Linked DNA regions of Homo sapiens: region 2 is linked to region 1. Evidence: fine-mapped expression QTL. Tissue or cell type: monocytes after R848. Region 1 holds a variant in brackets; the other region holds the start of a gene. All regions are shown on one strand. Distances are between the middles of the regions.

The links. PIP is the estimated chance that this variant, and not a neighbour inherited with it, causes the effect.
Region 2: ATP10B starts here. The variant in region 1 is fine-mapped to the expression of ATP10B in monocytes after R848 (Quach 2016, PIP 0.95).

The regions. Positions count from the first base shown.
Region 1 is chr5:160,480,723-160,488,830 of GRCh38, forward strand. It overlaps MIR3142HG (MIR3142 host gene), which reads left to right. Exons shown (of 2, transcript NR_132748.1): 2 at 4,577-6,704. MIR146A (microRNA 146a) reads left to right here and starts at 4,630; the gene lies at 4,630-4,728. The variant T/C (reference allele first, on the strand shown) is at 3,855.
Region 2 is chr5:160,847,775-160,855,882 of GRCh38, forward strand. It overlaps ATP10B (ATPase phospholipid transporting 10B (putative)), which reads right to left and starts at 4,437. Exons shown (of 26, transcript NM_025153.3): 1 at 4,167-4,437.

The sequences.
Region 1 (8,108 bases):
AGAAAATCAGCAACAATCTGAAAAATAAAATATGGCACCCTATGCTTCACCCTGGACCAGAAATTGGGCCACCTGCCATCATTTTCTGACCAGGCTGATTTAGCTATTTGACCTTCGGCCTCAATTATAACTCATGTTCAAACAGTGGTTTCTCATAGATTAGTTTACTTTGCTCCTTCCAATACCTGATTGGTGAGAGAGGACCATTTCTGAGGAGGTCTCTGATGTGTAGAGAGGTTATATGACCTGCCTAGTTCCCATAGCTGGTAGGAGACAAGCTAGGGCTAAAACCCAGTTTTAACTTCTATCACCTTTTTTTTTTTTTTTTTTTTTGAGACAGTCTCACTTTGTTACCCAGGCTGGAGTGCAGTGGCACGATCTCAGCTCACTACAACCTCCACCTCCCAGGTTCAAGCATTCCTCCTGCCTCAGCCTCCTGAGTAGCTGGGACTACAAGTGCGTGCCATCATGCTCAGCTAATTTTTGTATTTTTAGTAGAGATGGGGTTTCACCATGTTGGCCAGGCTGGTCTCAAACTCCTGACCTTATGATCCCCTCACCTCTGCCACCCAAAGTGCTGGGAGTACAGACATGAGCCACCGTGCCCAGCCTATCACCTTGTTTTTATTATCTCATCATGTTGTCATCTTAATGTTTTTAACTTTTCAGTTTCCCCATCTTTAAAATAAGGAAATTAAACTGTGTGGTTTGTAAAAGTAAGTTCCCTCCCTCCCTTCCCTTCTCTCCCTCCCTCCCTTCCCTCTCTCCCTCCCTCCCTTCCTTTTCTCCCTCCCTCCTGTTCCTGGACCAAACTGAGGGTCAGGCTGCTGTTTCTCACAGCCCAATAACGAGATGCAGATGAACTGGGAAGGAAGAGAGTTTTTATTTCTGTAACCAGTTACAGGGAGAAGGCCCAGAAATTATCACTAGACCAACTCAAAATTACAAAGTTTTCTAAGCTATATGTCTACATGTAAGTGTGCGTTCATCTAAAGACATTAGTGATTAATTTCTTTTAATCTGTAACTAAGGTCTGAGTCCTGAAGACCTTCCTCTAGAGCCTCAGTAAATTTACTTAATCTAAATGGGTCCAGGTGCTGGGGTGATTACTTATCTTGTCCCCTGCTAAATCATGGAGGTTTGGGGAGTTCCTTTAGGCCCCCAATAAACCTGTTTGTGGAGGCCTGGGGAGTTTCTTCAGACCCCCATTAAAACTTGTTTAATCCTAAATGGGTCCTGTTAAGAATTCCTTCGTTATTTTGTCATGCTTTAGTGTCCAGGCAAAACTCTTGGTGGGCTTTTGTTGCATTCCAGACTTTGTATAAGGGCACTGGCTCAATCAACTTTTAATGTTTAACCTAGCTGTCAGTCAGTGCTGGGACAGTTGTGATGGAAGCCTGCATAACTGAGACCTAGCCTCCCTCCCTTCCTCCCCTCCCCGCCTCCCTCCCTCCCTTTCTTCCTTCCTTCCATCCTTCCATCCATCCATCACTGGAGTGCCTACTATGATCAAGACATCATGCTAGAAGCTGGAAATAATGTTACACAAAACACATGCACACACCCCATTAAGAAAGTTAAAAAGCCACCCAAAGAATGGGAGAAAATATTTGCAAATTATACATGTGGGACTTGTATCTAGAATATATACAGAACCCTTACAACTCAATAATAAAAATACAAACAACTCAATTACAAAATTGACAAAAAAATCTGAATAGACATTTCTCCAAAGAAGCTATATAAATGGCCAGTAAGCACATGAAGAGATACTCAACATCATTAGCCATCAGGGAAATGCAAATCAAAACCGTAGTGAGATACCACTTCACACCTACTAGGATAACTATACTCAAAAGATAGACATTAACAAGTATTGGCAAGATGTGGAGAAACTGGAACCCTCATACACTGCTGGTGGAATTGTAAAATAGTGTGGCCGCTTTGGAAAACAGTCTGGCCATTCATCAACTGATAGCCATAGAGTTAACATATGACACAGAAATTCCACACTTAGGTATACGTCTGTGAAAGGAAAATAGATCTCAGAACTCCCAAAATCACTAAGCCAAAGGGAAGTCAAACTGGGAACTGTGTGAGGCAAACCTGCCTCCCATTTTATTCCTACGTAAGCTAGCTACAAAGATAAAAAAGCTACATACCTCCCTCACAATTTGCCCACTAGGAAATTCCTTGTGGACAAAGGACAGACAGAATTCAGTCATTCTTTTGCTCATGTGAGACCAATGCATATCTGATTGCTTCTTCTGCCCTATTATTTCACTAAGCCAGACTAAGGAATAAGTGACTATTCCTCTACCCTCCTCTCACATGTAAATTGTGTATTCAGTAAAAGGCTAACCAGAGACAAAAAAATGCAACAGTTTGTCTTGTATCTACCTATGATCTGGAAGCCCCCACCCCTGCTTCTAGTTGTCCCAGCTCTCCAGACTGAACCAATGTACATCTTACATATACTGATTGATGTCTCATGTTTCCCTATAATGTATAAAACCAAGCTGTGCCCCGACCACCTTGGGCACAATGTTGTCAGGACCTTCTGAGGCTGTGTGACAGGCATGTTCTTAACCTTGGCAAAATAAACTTCCTAAATGGATTCAGGTCTGTCTCAGATACTTTTGGGTTCACACATCCATGAGAAATGCAAACATATGTCCATACAAAACTTGTACATGGGTATTCATTCATAGAAGCATCAAATAGGCAAAAGGTAGCAACAACCCAAATGCCCATCAGCTGATGAATGGATAAATGAAATGTGGTAGATCCTAACGATGGAATATTATTCATCCATAGGAAGGATGTACTGATACGCATTAAAACATGGATATATCCTGAAAGCTAAGTGAAAGAAGCCAGTCACAAAAGGCCGCTGATTATATGATTTCATTTATATAAGATGTCCAGCATATATATAGACAGAACGTAGATCAGTGATTCCCCAGGGGTGAGGGAGGGGAATGGAGATTGACTGTTAATGGTTATGGGATCTATTTTGGGGATGATGAAAATGTTCTGGAATTGATTATGATGGTTGTACAACTCTGCAAAATACTAAAAACCAATGCATTTTTTACTTTAAATAGGTAAATTTTCTGGTGTGTGAGCTATATAGCTATAGCTCAATAAGGCTATTATATACTTATTTTATTTTATTATTATTTTTTAGAGACAGAGTCTCGCTTTGTCACCCAGCCTGGAGTGCAGTTGTGCAATCTTAGCTCACTGCAACCTCTGCCTCCTGGGTTCAAGTGATTCTTCTGCCTCAGCCTCCCAAGTAGCTGGGACTACAGGTGTGCGCCACCATGCCTGGCGAATTTTTGTATTTTTGTTAGAGACGGGGTTTCACCATGTTAGCCAAGTGAAACTTGAACTCCTGACCTCAGGTGATCTGCCTGCCTCAGCCTCCCAAAGTTCCGAGATTACAGGTGTGAGTCACCACATCTCGCCTATATACATATTTAAAAAACACTAGCATGGTCTCTATGCTTATGGAAAACAGTCTTGTTGGAGAGATAATTTTAATCAAATAATTATACAAAATTATCTAACAATTACAAATTACGGTGAAGGAAAGAATCCCATATTATGAAAGAGACTAGCTGGAGGCTGATGGTGAGGGAGTGGTAGGTAAACATTCAAGTGCTCTTACAGAGATCCCCAAGTAACAGTGGCTTAAATAAGGTAAATGTTCCATTCTTGCTGATCTATCAGTGCAGGTGTAAGCAGTCTAGGGTGTATAAGGAAGCCTCACACTTTTGGGGCTCTTCTGGCATGCTGCTCTGCTGTTCCCTGGGGGGCTGCACTCATTTGCATGGTCCACAGTGGCTCTC[T/C]ACCATGTCTACAGTCCAAGCCTGAGAAGAGGGAGGGAAACAGTAAAAAACTCTCCACTCCTGCTCATATCCAGCACTTTGTCACACCAGGTGAGGAAACAAAGTCAGATGTCCATGTGTTCAGATACCACTTAAGGGTTCTATTAGTATAGAAGGAGGAGAGAATATATATTGGGCAAACAATCAGCAATCTCTGCCATAGATGGCCTCTCTGAGGAAGTGACATTGAAAGCAAGAACATCAGGATAAGTTGATGTTAAAGAGAGGAACGAGTTTTCCAGGCCAGAGGGATGGCATATGGAAGGGTCATGAGGCAGGAAAGGCCAGCTACCATGTTTAATGATGCTTAATGATGTGTGTGTCTACCATACACATCCCCTACAGATTAGTTTTTGTTTTGACAGGGTCTCTCTCTGTGGCCCAGACTGGAGTGCAGTGGTGCAATCATAGCTCACTGCAACCTCCAATTCCCAGGCTCAAGCGATCCTCCCACCACAGGCCATCATGCATGGCTCATTTTTTATTTTTAGTAGAGACAAATTCTCCATGTTGCCCAGGCTAGTCCTGAACTCCTGGGCTCAAGAGATCCACCCACATCAGCCTTCCAGACTGCTGGCCTGGTCTCCTCCAGATGTTTATAACTCATGAGTGCCAGGACTAGACCTGGTACTAGGAAGCAGCTGCATTGGATTTACCAGGCTTTTCACTCTTGTATTTTACAGGGCTGGGACAGGCCTGGACTGCAAGGAGGGGTCTTTGCACCATCTCTGAAAAGCCGATGTGTATCCTCAGCTTTGAGAACTGAATTCCATGGGTTGTGTCAGTGTCAGACCTCTGAAATTCAGTTCTTCAGCTGGGATATCTCTGTCATCGTGGGCTTGAGGACCTGGAGAGAGTAGATCCTGAAGAACTTTTTCAGTCTGCTGAAGAGCTTGGAAGACTGGAGACAGAAGGCAGAGTCTCAGGCTCTGAAGGTATAAGGAGTGTGAGTTCCTGTGAGAAACACTCATTTGATTGTGAAAAGACTTGAATTCTATGCTAAGCAGGGTTCCAAGTAGCTAAATGAATGATCTCAGCAAGTCTCTCTTGCTGCTGCTGCTACTCGTTTACATTTATTGATTACTTACGATGATTCAGGTACTGTTGTAAGTGCTTTACATGCTGTTATACGAGACTCTTGGGAGAAATCACTTTAATGAAGCTTGAGACACATGGCATTGCCATGCAATGATTTTTCCCCCCTCTTCACGGGATCAGAGGGAACTAATAGAATGTGACAATGATTCTTTAGCAGGGACTGCTGAGGCTTCTGGTTCCTTTTTAAGATCTGCAGTGAAAGAAGATGAGAAACATGGATATGCCCTTCTTTTGGTCCCCCTCTTCCTTTATTTGATCTCTACTTCCTTCTATAAATATATTAGGGCTACATTGTCCCTTTGTATTTCAAACAAGGCAAAAAGAGGTTGTAATTACACTTTACTGCAATCCTCAGTTTCTCCAGGGAACAGGAATGCAAAGGCTTTGAAGGCCTCTCTATTTGCTGACATGGTCAGCTGGGTGCCATGGGCCAAGTCCTTCTGTTGCCCTCCTCTGTCACCAAGTAAGCTAGGTCCTTTCTGAGGCTCAGGTTTGCTGTGATGATGATCACTTTTAGGCAGAAGGTTAGAGGCCTCATGAGTGCTATATGGACTTTATTAGGCTTTAGATTTGATGGGGAATAAGGGATGTGATTTGTCTTTTGGGAACTCATCTTTGATTCATCATTGTCTCTTGGTATCTTGGAATTTCCATGTCATTACAGTCTACAGAATGAAAGAGTAACCTGTCCCAGAGGAGAGGCAGGTGAAAGACTCCACAGCATGCTCATTCTCATTCTGTCTTCTCAGTGACACCGAGGTTTACTGAGTGCCCACTATGTGCCAAGCACTGTGCTCAGGGCTTTCTTTGTATGCATGATCTCAGTGAATCTCACCAAGCCTCATCTGGAAAACGGGGACAAATTAACAACAGGATGGCAAATTGAAAAACACGTAACCATGTTCTACAGATGGAAAGGGGTGCTTGGTTATTATGAAGGCCCCCTCGCAAGCGTGTGGGACATGGGTGTGTTCTCTGGGTTGTACTGATCAGATCAAGGACCTCCCCCACCCTTCTCACACTCTGCCCACTTCCGCCCTTTGCTTATCAGACCCTTAGCCAGTGACTCATTCCAGAACCAGAACCTTGGTGAAATCTCAACCGACACCAGAGATCGGTGTCTTCAGTCCTAGACTGATGGAGAAAATCCAGAATATATACTAGAAGCTCCAAATGCTCTGGGTTTCAGCTCCTCTGTGCTGTGGACACTGACTTTGGCTCAGAACTCCGATTTAGTACAAAAGGCTCATTTTTATTTCAGGGGCACTCTTCCTAAAGCAAACCTAATAAATGAAATATGGAATTCACAGATACACACACACATTAAAAAATTAACCTAGTGTATCTGTGAGGAGTAGGCAGAAATTCACTGTATAAAAGAATGCTTCATTTCATAGAGAATTTGTGTTAAGATTCCATTAGATAGTACATTTCTCAAAGATTTTTGAGGTTGTATTTGCTTTACCAAAACTTGGTTTATGTAAGTGGAAAAAGCATGTTGCAAAATAACTTGGTGTCTATGATTCAGTTTATGTAAAATAATAAATGTATGTAGGAATACGTGTGTTGAAAGATGTACATCAATTTGCTAACAATGGTTATCTCTGACGTGGTGGGATTTGAGATGTGTTTTTCTTTTTGGTTGTATTTTTCTCTATTGTTTGACTTAACACAGAACATGTTTGGTTACAACAATAAAGTTATTGAAGACAATATAACACCCAATTGTGATGAGTCCAGACAGTACTCATGCTGTGCATTTATTAGACAGTATGCCATAGAGGTGGGTCATGGAGGAGTGGAGAGAGAGCCCTGATTTGTTGTCCCATGAAGAAGATAGGCACAGGGTAATATGTAGTGTGATTCTTTTTTTTTTTGCACGAGGAGAAGTGTGTGTGTATCCGTGTAAGTGTATGGATATCCAGTGGGTAGTGGGTGTTAAGATTGCAAGTGATTTTTTTCCCCTCTCCCTTAATCATGCTTTTCTGCCTAAATAAAAAAAGAACTCTCTCCAAAAATCCATCCATGTGTGCCAGTGGTTTTTAAATGTGTTTCTTGGAGCAGCAGCATCAGTATCACCTGTGACTTTTTTTTTTTTTTTTTTGAGTCACTCTGTCACCCAGGCTGGAGTGCAGTGGCATGATCTTGGCTCACTGCAACCTCCGCCTCCTGGGTTCAAGCAATTCTCTTGCCTCAGCCTCCCAAGTAGCTGGGATTACAGGCGCCTGCTACCATGCCTGGGTAATTTTTATATTTTTAGTAGAGACGGGATTTCACCATGTTGGCCAAGCTGGTCTTAAACTCCTGACTGCAGGTGATTCGCCCACCTTGGCCTCCCAAAGTGTTGGGATTACAGGCATGAGCCACCACGCTTGGCCTGGGAATGACTTTTGGATTAGCTAACCAACCTGTGAACTTTTTAGAAATGTAAATTTTCAGGCCCCACTCAAGACCTCCTGAATAGAAAACTCTAGGGGTAGGGCCCAGCAATTTCTGTTTTACCAACCCTTTGGCTGACTTTTATGCACACTAAAGTTTTAGTACTGATAGGGTCAATCAAGGGACATCTGCATTCCCCTGGAACTGAAATATAGCTGACATTGACATGAAAGATGCTGGCCCACTCCTACAAGTATGCATGCAAGTATTCCGCAAAACTTATTTCTGAGAGATGAACAGCAGGACCCCAAAACTTCAAGATGGTTACAAGTGATATTTCCACCGGTGAATAGTAGATTTCTAGGTTTTTAATGTGCAAACTTTAGGTGCATAAAACCGCTTGAAGAAGTTGTCAATTAAGGCAGGTCATGCCCCTGACCCACAGACTAGGCATTTCCAAAGTATCTGTCATTTTAACCATCACTCACTGAATGTCATCAAGGAGGTCCTAGGACGACACTTAGAGCAACTATTCCAGGCTTTTTCAAATGCTGTTTTCCCCCTCCGTACTATTATGTTTCTTCTTCCCAATTCATCCTTTCTCTTCCTGTTGTGATTGATGGGGTCTCAGAAGCAGATTAGCCATCCTTTCGGCTCTGTGCTTGGGAGAGAATAGCTCACATGCTGCTAGAGAGGTGCCTTGGGAGTAATAATAATGATAATGGAAGTATTGATTTG
Region 2 (8,108 bases), 370 kb after region 1:
TAAGTAGGAACAAGTCTCTCTGAATATATTTACACCAGCTCATGGAAACCATTGTCCTCAGAAACCTCTGCAAAAATCTATTTTCTAGTGTCGGTATTGCTTTAAGTTTGACAGATGATGGTAAAATACAATGAAATTACCTTTGAGCTCTGATATGTATATCAGCGCCCACATCTCTCACAATTTGATTTTTTATTTTTCCAACACAGCCATCTATTTTCAATATTATCCCTGCACACTCCAGGTTTATGCCTGGGGAAAATAACTATTTATGCCTAAGTCATACTTATATGCAGAATTTACACTATATGTAAACATACACACATACAATACACATGTGTAAATACATATTAGTTAAGAGCTGGAAGGAACCTTTCAGATCTTCAAGTCTTTACTGTCACATTACAAATGAAGAATCTGAAGCCCCAACAGAAATGCTATTGAGAAGGCCACACAGAAACCTGACTTCAAAGTGAGATTTGAGAGAATAAGGATGTAGCAAGTTCCTACTATGTTCTGAGGGTTACAGGAGGCATATTCCATTCATAAGTTCTTATACCATTTCTATGATGTTGGTATCACTCCCATTTGATAGATGAGAAAATTGAGGCTTACAAAAGTAGCACAGCTAAGAAAATAGCACAGCTAATAAATGGCACAAATGAAATTAAAGCACTGATGTAACTAGGTTCTTTCTAGCATACCAGCATTTCTCTAAATACATTCACTGCCATATCACTGACATAATTTTGCTAATCCACGTGCCAACTGTATTTTAACTTTTTTGATTAATTAATGTAAACATTTATAAAGGAAAAGTTTATCACCATTTAAATAGCATGCCATAAAGAGAAGAAAACTATTGCTGAGTTTTAGCTGGACCCTGCTGCTACCTAAAGACATCAAAATTGCATCCAGCTCTCTTTGTTGAAATGGGAGATTAGCAATGGGTAGAGAGGTATTAAAGGTCTAGTCATACCAAAATGAGACTTAATGATGGAAAGAGAGTTGAGAGGGAAAACTTTTACTATGTGATCTAGCTATTTGATATAATACGTGAGTATCACCTAAAGTCATCTTTGTCCTACCTAAGATCATTTTTGGTTCTATCATGGTACCTGTTCTTCACTTTGAGAAACACTGCAGTACATATAGTAACTGGGCATGTTCTCCAGGTCATGGTTCTGGAACTCCATCAGAATCACCTGAAGGCCTATTTAAAACAGATTTCTGAGTGATCCCGAGTTTCTGACTCAGCATGTCTGCGGCAGGGCCTGAGGTTTTGCCCTTCTAATAGTTCCCGAGTAATTCTGATACAGCCGGCCCAGGAAGCATATTTGGGAACCACTGCTCTAGGTTGTACTTGGGGAGGAGGAGGTAGAGAACATACGGTAGCATGTGTGTGAAGATTTCACCATCAATCTTGCTTGTGAGTGGAGGGATCTGGAATTTTTAATTAAGCAGATGAGGCAAAGAAACAATGTATTCTTGTGTTCCTGTGTCACTTCTTCAACTTAATGAGTTCAGATTGATACTGCACCATACCAGAGCGACCTGCAAAAACTTTATCTAAGAGACAAAAGTACCTCCTCTCAAATAATACAAGTTGTTTTCAGGCTGCTAACTATCTGCAAGGCTCCCTGCATTGGCAACAGCAGCCAGTGATCACTAATAACGAAAGCAGAAAATGAGATTCTCCTTCTTTTCTCCAGACGTTTAAGACAGTACTTAATAAACAAAAAATGCCATATCCATTAATATTCTTTCTCATCTGGTTCTCTTAGTAGTAACTAGCAATTATTAAGTGCCTTCTGTGGGCCAATTATTGAATTGTACTGGCAATTACACACACACACACACACACACACTCTTTTAATGTGAGCATTTGACAGGCGCAGTAACTTGCCAAGGTTACACAATTATAGGAAGCAGAACTGTAATTCATATGCAAGTTTTATTCCAAAGCCCGTTTTTTTTCTACTAAACAATACCCACTCCTATTCTGACTACCCAACTTCATCTCTTAATAAAAGGGTATTTTATAAAAAATGAAAAGAAGAAAAGGCTCCAGAAACTTAAACTTTGTAGTTAAAAGAATTGTAAAACAATGTCACCAGAAAATGAGAAATCAGTGACATTTAATCAGCAGAAAAGCTAGAACTCCCTAGGTTCAAAGCAAAATTTAAGAATGCCTGGCTAAGTTTTACTTTAAGGAGAGTGGGTAAATGGGTAGAATCAGTCTCAGGAATCCAACGAGTTTTAGTTTACTTTTGAGTCACAAAAGAAATTTTCATTCCCTTCTGACATGGCAGAAGCTGTTTGAAGAATGAAAGTGGTAGTAGAAGCAACACTGGGCCAGGTGCGGTGCTTACGCTTGTAATCCCAGCACTTTGGGAGGCTGTGGGCGGATCACCTGAGGTCAGGAGTTCGAGACCAGCCTGGCCAACATGGTGAAACTCCGTCTCTACTAAAAAACAAAAAACAAAAAACAAAACAAAAATTAGCCAGGCATGGTGGTGCATGCCTGTAATCCTAGCTACTTGGGAGGCTGAGATGGGAGAATTGCTTGAATCCAGGAGGCAGAGGTTGCATTGAGCTGAGATTGCGCCACTGCACGCCAGCCTGGGTGACAGAGCAAGACTCCATCTCAAAACAAAACAAAATAAACAAGAAGAAGCAACACTGGATTGAGAGCTCTGAGCCTTGGACTCTGGTGTCCTTTTCTCTCAGTAATTCAGACTTCATTTCTCTAGGTCCTAGTTTTATCATCTGTAAACTAGGCAGCTAGACTAAGTTCCATTCCATTCCTCAGAGCTCCGTTCCTTTGAAAGGCAGCCTCCTTCACTGGACTTATCAGTATCACATGCTTCAAAAGATAAGGCTCATCGTTTAGCACGAGAGGAGTATGATTTAACTGTAAAAAGTCAGCATGTGGGTTTCAACCTTCAGTTTCTCAAGAGCCTATTAATCCACCCATATGTGATGTTATACTGCTATACTCTTTAAAAAATACATGATGAAAACCTGAGGAGAGATCCTGAACCCTTAAATCCATATAATTAGGCTGTAAGAAATGAATTTTCCAAGAATTTTTTAAAAAGTCATCAATGGATGAAATGACAAACTCAGTGGGTGTTATTAAGAGTAATTATAGTAACATCTAGACAGAAAACAACATCTGTGATCTGCCTGATTAATGGCTTAATGTAACTGTATGTCTGTTAATGGAATAATACTCCAAGCAGTCTTGACTGTACATTTGCAAGATCTGGAAACAGAGAAGAAACTGTGGAAGAAGGAAGTAGCAGAGTGCCAGATTGGCTTTGGGAGGTCAAGCTCCTCTCTACAGTTTTCAAATTCTCCTCTGCCTACCTGGCAAATTCAGAGAAAATTGCCTGGCAAATTCAGAGAAAAACCAAGTTCCACCAGACACAGGCATGCACTCCTGTAGGCAAAATAACTAGCAGCTCAGTATAATTTTTATTTTTAACATTACTTTTCACCTTAGGGTTAGGGATAGTGTCACTCCAGCCTTAATAGCAGGCCACAGGACTGTCCTAAATGTATTCATCACAGACCTGCATGCATGGGGCTTTTTTATTTTTTTTCTGGAAGGAGTAACTCATACTTAGGGAAAAAACACATTTTTCTTTAAGCAACAGTTTTCTCCTTTGAACTCAAAGGAAAGTCAAGCTTCCCACCTATAGTTGAAAACTACTGCAATATGGCAGCTTCAGAGTTTATCAAGATGAAATTGGGAAGCCATGTAATGATCTCATTCTCTTCCTCAAAGCTATAGTTTCTTTCTGCTTTGAGAAGAAGGCTGTAACTCCATCTGCTTCCTCAGGCTGCACTGGATGAATGCAGGATAGCAGGATATATTATTTATCATAAAATGTATTCAGGCACATTCAGACTGCAAGCCCTGTTGAGTGAGGAAGTAGCATTTGCCATCAGCTTATCATAATGAAATCAATTGACGAAAAATAAAACATTCTGTTAGAAAAGAAATGTGGATCTCGCACCCAGAAAGCCAAATGAAATTTCAAATGCAGTGTAAAGAAAAGTAGTCATATCCTGGGCCTAATTCAGAACTTAGACTTGATGATTCTAAGAGGCAATTACTCCCCCATTATATAGGTTAAGGCCAGGATGCTTTTACTTACCCCAGCAAAGCTGACGTCCCTATTGAGCAGACTCCAGTAGAAGAAAACAGTGCTTGAAAGTGGCGGTATTTCTCTCGCACACCTTGGCTAAAATAGTTCTCTTTCCTATGGAATTTTTCATTTTTCTGATTATATCTGATTATGTCAAGGCAAGGCCTCAAGCTAACACTCCCTCAGAAACTTAGAGAAGATGACACACTGAAAAGAAATAACTGTGACCAATGAAAGAAAAAGGAAAAATAAGCTGCCTCGCTAGGCCCAAGAGTGAAAGAGAAGAATAGCAAGTCTGTGAATGTGAGGCCGAGTCCCAGAACAGTGAAGGCAGTGTTCTTCGACTTGGCTGAACATTTACATTGTTAGACATGGTTCTTGCATAAATTTCTACTTCCTGTGAATCAATGAGCCAGCAATATCAAAATTCATGGTGATTTTTATTCTCTACGCATGGTACAAAATGACTTTGTCCATCTACCTTTGGTAATGCATGTAATTAAGTGTGAGACAATTATAACCTTGCAGTTCTCTTTGGGGGGCCTGAAATATGATTCAGCTGCTGGGTTTCAAGGGCACTTAAGAAAGAAAAGACTCTCTACAGTGACTTTTATATGCATGCTGATGATGAATTTGCCCTCAAAGCTTCAGAAGTCTCATTTTGCAGTAGTCATAGTTTTTATTGATTACTGTTTGATTATACAAAATAAGGAAAGTGGGACCAATATATTATAGTGGCAGATTATGTGAATGGTGCAAACTTACAGAAAATCAGAATTAGTAATGGGCTTATTGATAGCTTCGATTCATACCCTAAAATGAGATTTTCATGTATAATCCTTTTATTAAGTTACCTACAACTCAACTAATTGGCATAAATGTCATGAGCAAGTTGCTGTATTGATGGATAATTATTGATGGGTCCATAAATAAAAGAGAAGGTAGAATGAGCAGTAAGTTGATTTTAAGGGTAGTAAAAAAAAGAAATATTACCAAACTTAGGAATAAAAGGTGTTGGAAAGAAGTGAACATACTAACTTCATGAAAATCTTTACATAAGATTTTGGTTGGTTGGTAGAGTAATTGTGAACTTTGTATGTACCTACAGATCTTATCAGAATACCAAGAAGAAACATGGACATAGGAAACATTTTACAAGAGAAGAAACACCCACACCATCTAAAATCTGCATCGCTGTGTGTGTAAGACACAAGCTAGGAATTTTTAAGAACATGAAATTTGCCTATGCTTTAGACAGTCTAGAATTTTTAAAAGAGCGAGTTGGCATTTCAAAATTCTCCATCTGCTAAAGAGAAGAATGCTTAAGTCCCTGTTCCTTTACTTCCCTTCACTCAGAGTGCTCTGGCTTCTAGGGACGAGTGTGGTCTAGAATCACAGATACGGTTAAATTGCAGAATATTGCACTAGTGGGTAACTGGAGGTTATTTAGTGAAGCCCCCTTGTGCCATGGAGGAGAATGCTGAAGCTCAGAGAAGTGAATACAATTGCTCAAAGCCAAACAGGAATTTGGTGGTGAACATGGGACCTCAAACCACATTGTCTTTCTCCTAAGACTAGTATATTTTCCATCACTGGTCTTTCTCCTAAGACCAGCTCTTTCCCATTATCACTTTCCTGGTAAAGAGAGAGGCACATGCAATTTAGGAACAAATGTGTCTGTAGCATCCCTTGGGTTTTCATGCTAACCAATGAATAGAGAGTCCTCAAATATGTTCATTTTCCAAACTGCCTGGAAATCGTAAATACTAACAGACATATGGCAAATTATTTATAAAATGTGTTGAAATTAAGTGACACTGTCTGGCTAATTAGAACCCTAATAAACAAATAATAGATAAGAAATGCTATGTTCAGTTTTTATTAGAGGGACTATCTTTCTTTTGTTTGGCTGCTGGAATTTTGTAATAAATCATATTTTAAAAATCACACTCACAGAGTTTTACTTATAGTTCCTATTTCCAGCAGGCAATCTTTCTACACTAAGGCAATTTAGCATTTTTGTATGTATTTGCATTTCTTATTGACCACATCATGCTTTTCATTCCTGATTTTTACACAGTGTGTCATGTCTAGCTTTTGTATTCTTGCTGCCCAAACTAGTCAATTAAAGAAGCAATGGTAGACAGAGGCTTTTGCTCCCATCCCCGACACCAGTACCACACAACCAGGATGGATTTCATAATCTTAAGACTATCTTCTACAAGCTGTGCAAGTGTTATTAGTGGTAATTTTTATTTTTTATTATACTTTAAAGTTCTGGGATACACATGCAGAACATGCAGGTTACATAGGTATACACGTGCCATGGTGGTTTGCTGCACCCATCAACCCGTCACCTACATTTGGCATTTCTCCTAATGCTATCCCTTCCCCTAGCCCCCCAACCCCTGACAGGCCCCAGTGTGTGATGTTTCTTCCCTGTGTCCATGTGTTCTCATTGTTCAACTCCCACTTATGAGAACATGTGGTGTTTGGTTTTCTGTTCCTGTGTTAGTTTGCTAAAAATGATGGCTTCCAGCTTCATCCATGTCCCTGCAAAGGACATGAACTCATCCTTTTTTATGGCTGCATAGTATTCCATGGTGTGTATGTGCTACATTTTCTTTATCCAGTCTATCATTGATGGGCATTTAGGTTGGTTCCAAGTCTTTGCTATTGTGAACAGTGCTGTAATAAACATACCTGTGCATGTGTCTTTATAGTAGAATGACTTATAGGGTATATACCCAGTAATGGGATTGCTGGGTCAAATTGTATTTATGGTTCTAGATCCTTGAAGAATCTCCGCACTGTCTTCTACAATGGTTGAACTAATTTACACTCCCTATTGGTGCTAATTTTTACTGAGTACTTTGTGCCAGCACCATGTTAAGTGCTCTACATACTTTGACTCATTTAATTCCCTCAAAAACTTTAATAGATTGACGCAATTATTCTTATTCTACGAGAGAGAAAATGTAGGAAAAGGAATAAAATAACTGTGCTTTCACATAACTAGGAAGTATCTGGGACTCAAACTACAGATTGTTTAACCATTCACCTTTGAAGGACATCTGAGTTATTTCCAGCTCTGTTATAAAGTTGCTATAAACATTTGTGCACAGGTTTTGTGTGAATAGAAGTATTTTTCTAGAATAAATGCACAGACAGAAGTTTAATTCCTGGATTGTATGGTATGTTTAGTATTTTAATAAATGCTTGTTTAGTATTTTAATCCTAGATGTATTTGCACGTTTAGTATTTTAAGAAACTGCGATATTCTTCCAGAGTGACTATACCATTTTACTTTCTTACCAGAAATGTGTGAGGGCCCTAGTTTCTCCGCATCCTCACCAGCATTTGGTGTTGTCACTACTCTTTAGTTATTTCAATAGGTGTATAGCAATATCTCATTTTGGTTTTAATTTGCATTTTCCTAATGGATAATGATGTTGAGTATCTTTTTATGTGCTTATTTCTCAGTTATATATTTTGTTTGGTGAAATATTTCTTAATGTCTTTTGCTTATGTTTTAATTAATTTTTGTTTGTTTTTTTTTTAGTTTTGAGTGTTCTTTATATACTATACCTTTGTCGGATATGTGGTTGGGAAATGTTTTCTTTCAATCCATAACTTATCTTTTTATCCCCTTCACAGGGTATTACACAGATCAAAAGGTTTATTTACATCAATTTTTAAAGCAATATTGAATCAATTTTCCTTTTCACTCTTTGCATACTTCTAAATCTTAAATATTTATCCTATTTCTCTAAAAATTTTATAATTTTATGAATTACATTTAAGTCTATGATCCATTTTGAGTTAAATTTTGTGTAAACTGTAATGTTAAGATCAAGGTTTCCTTGTGTGTTTATTTGGATTTTCAATTGTACTAGAACCACTTGTTTTATGACTGTCCTTCCTCCATTGAATTGTTCTTGTAACTTTGTA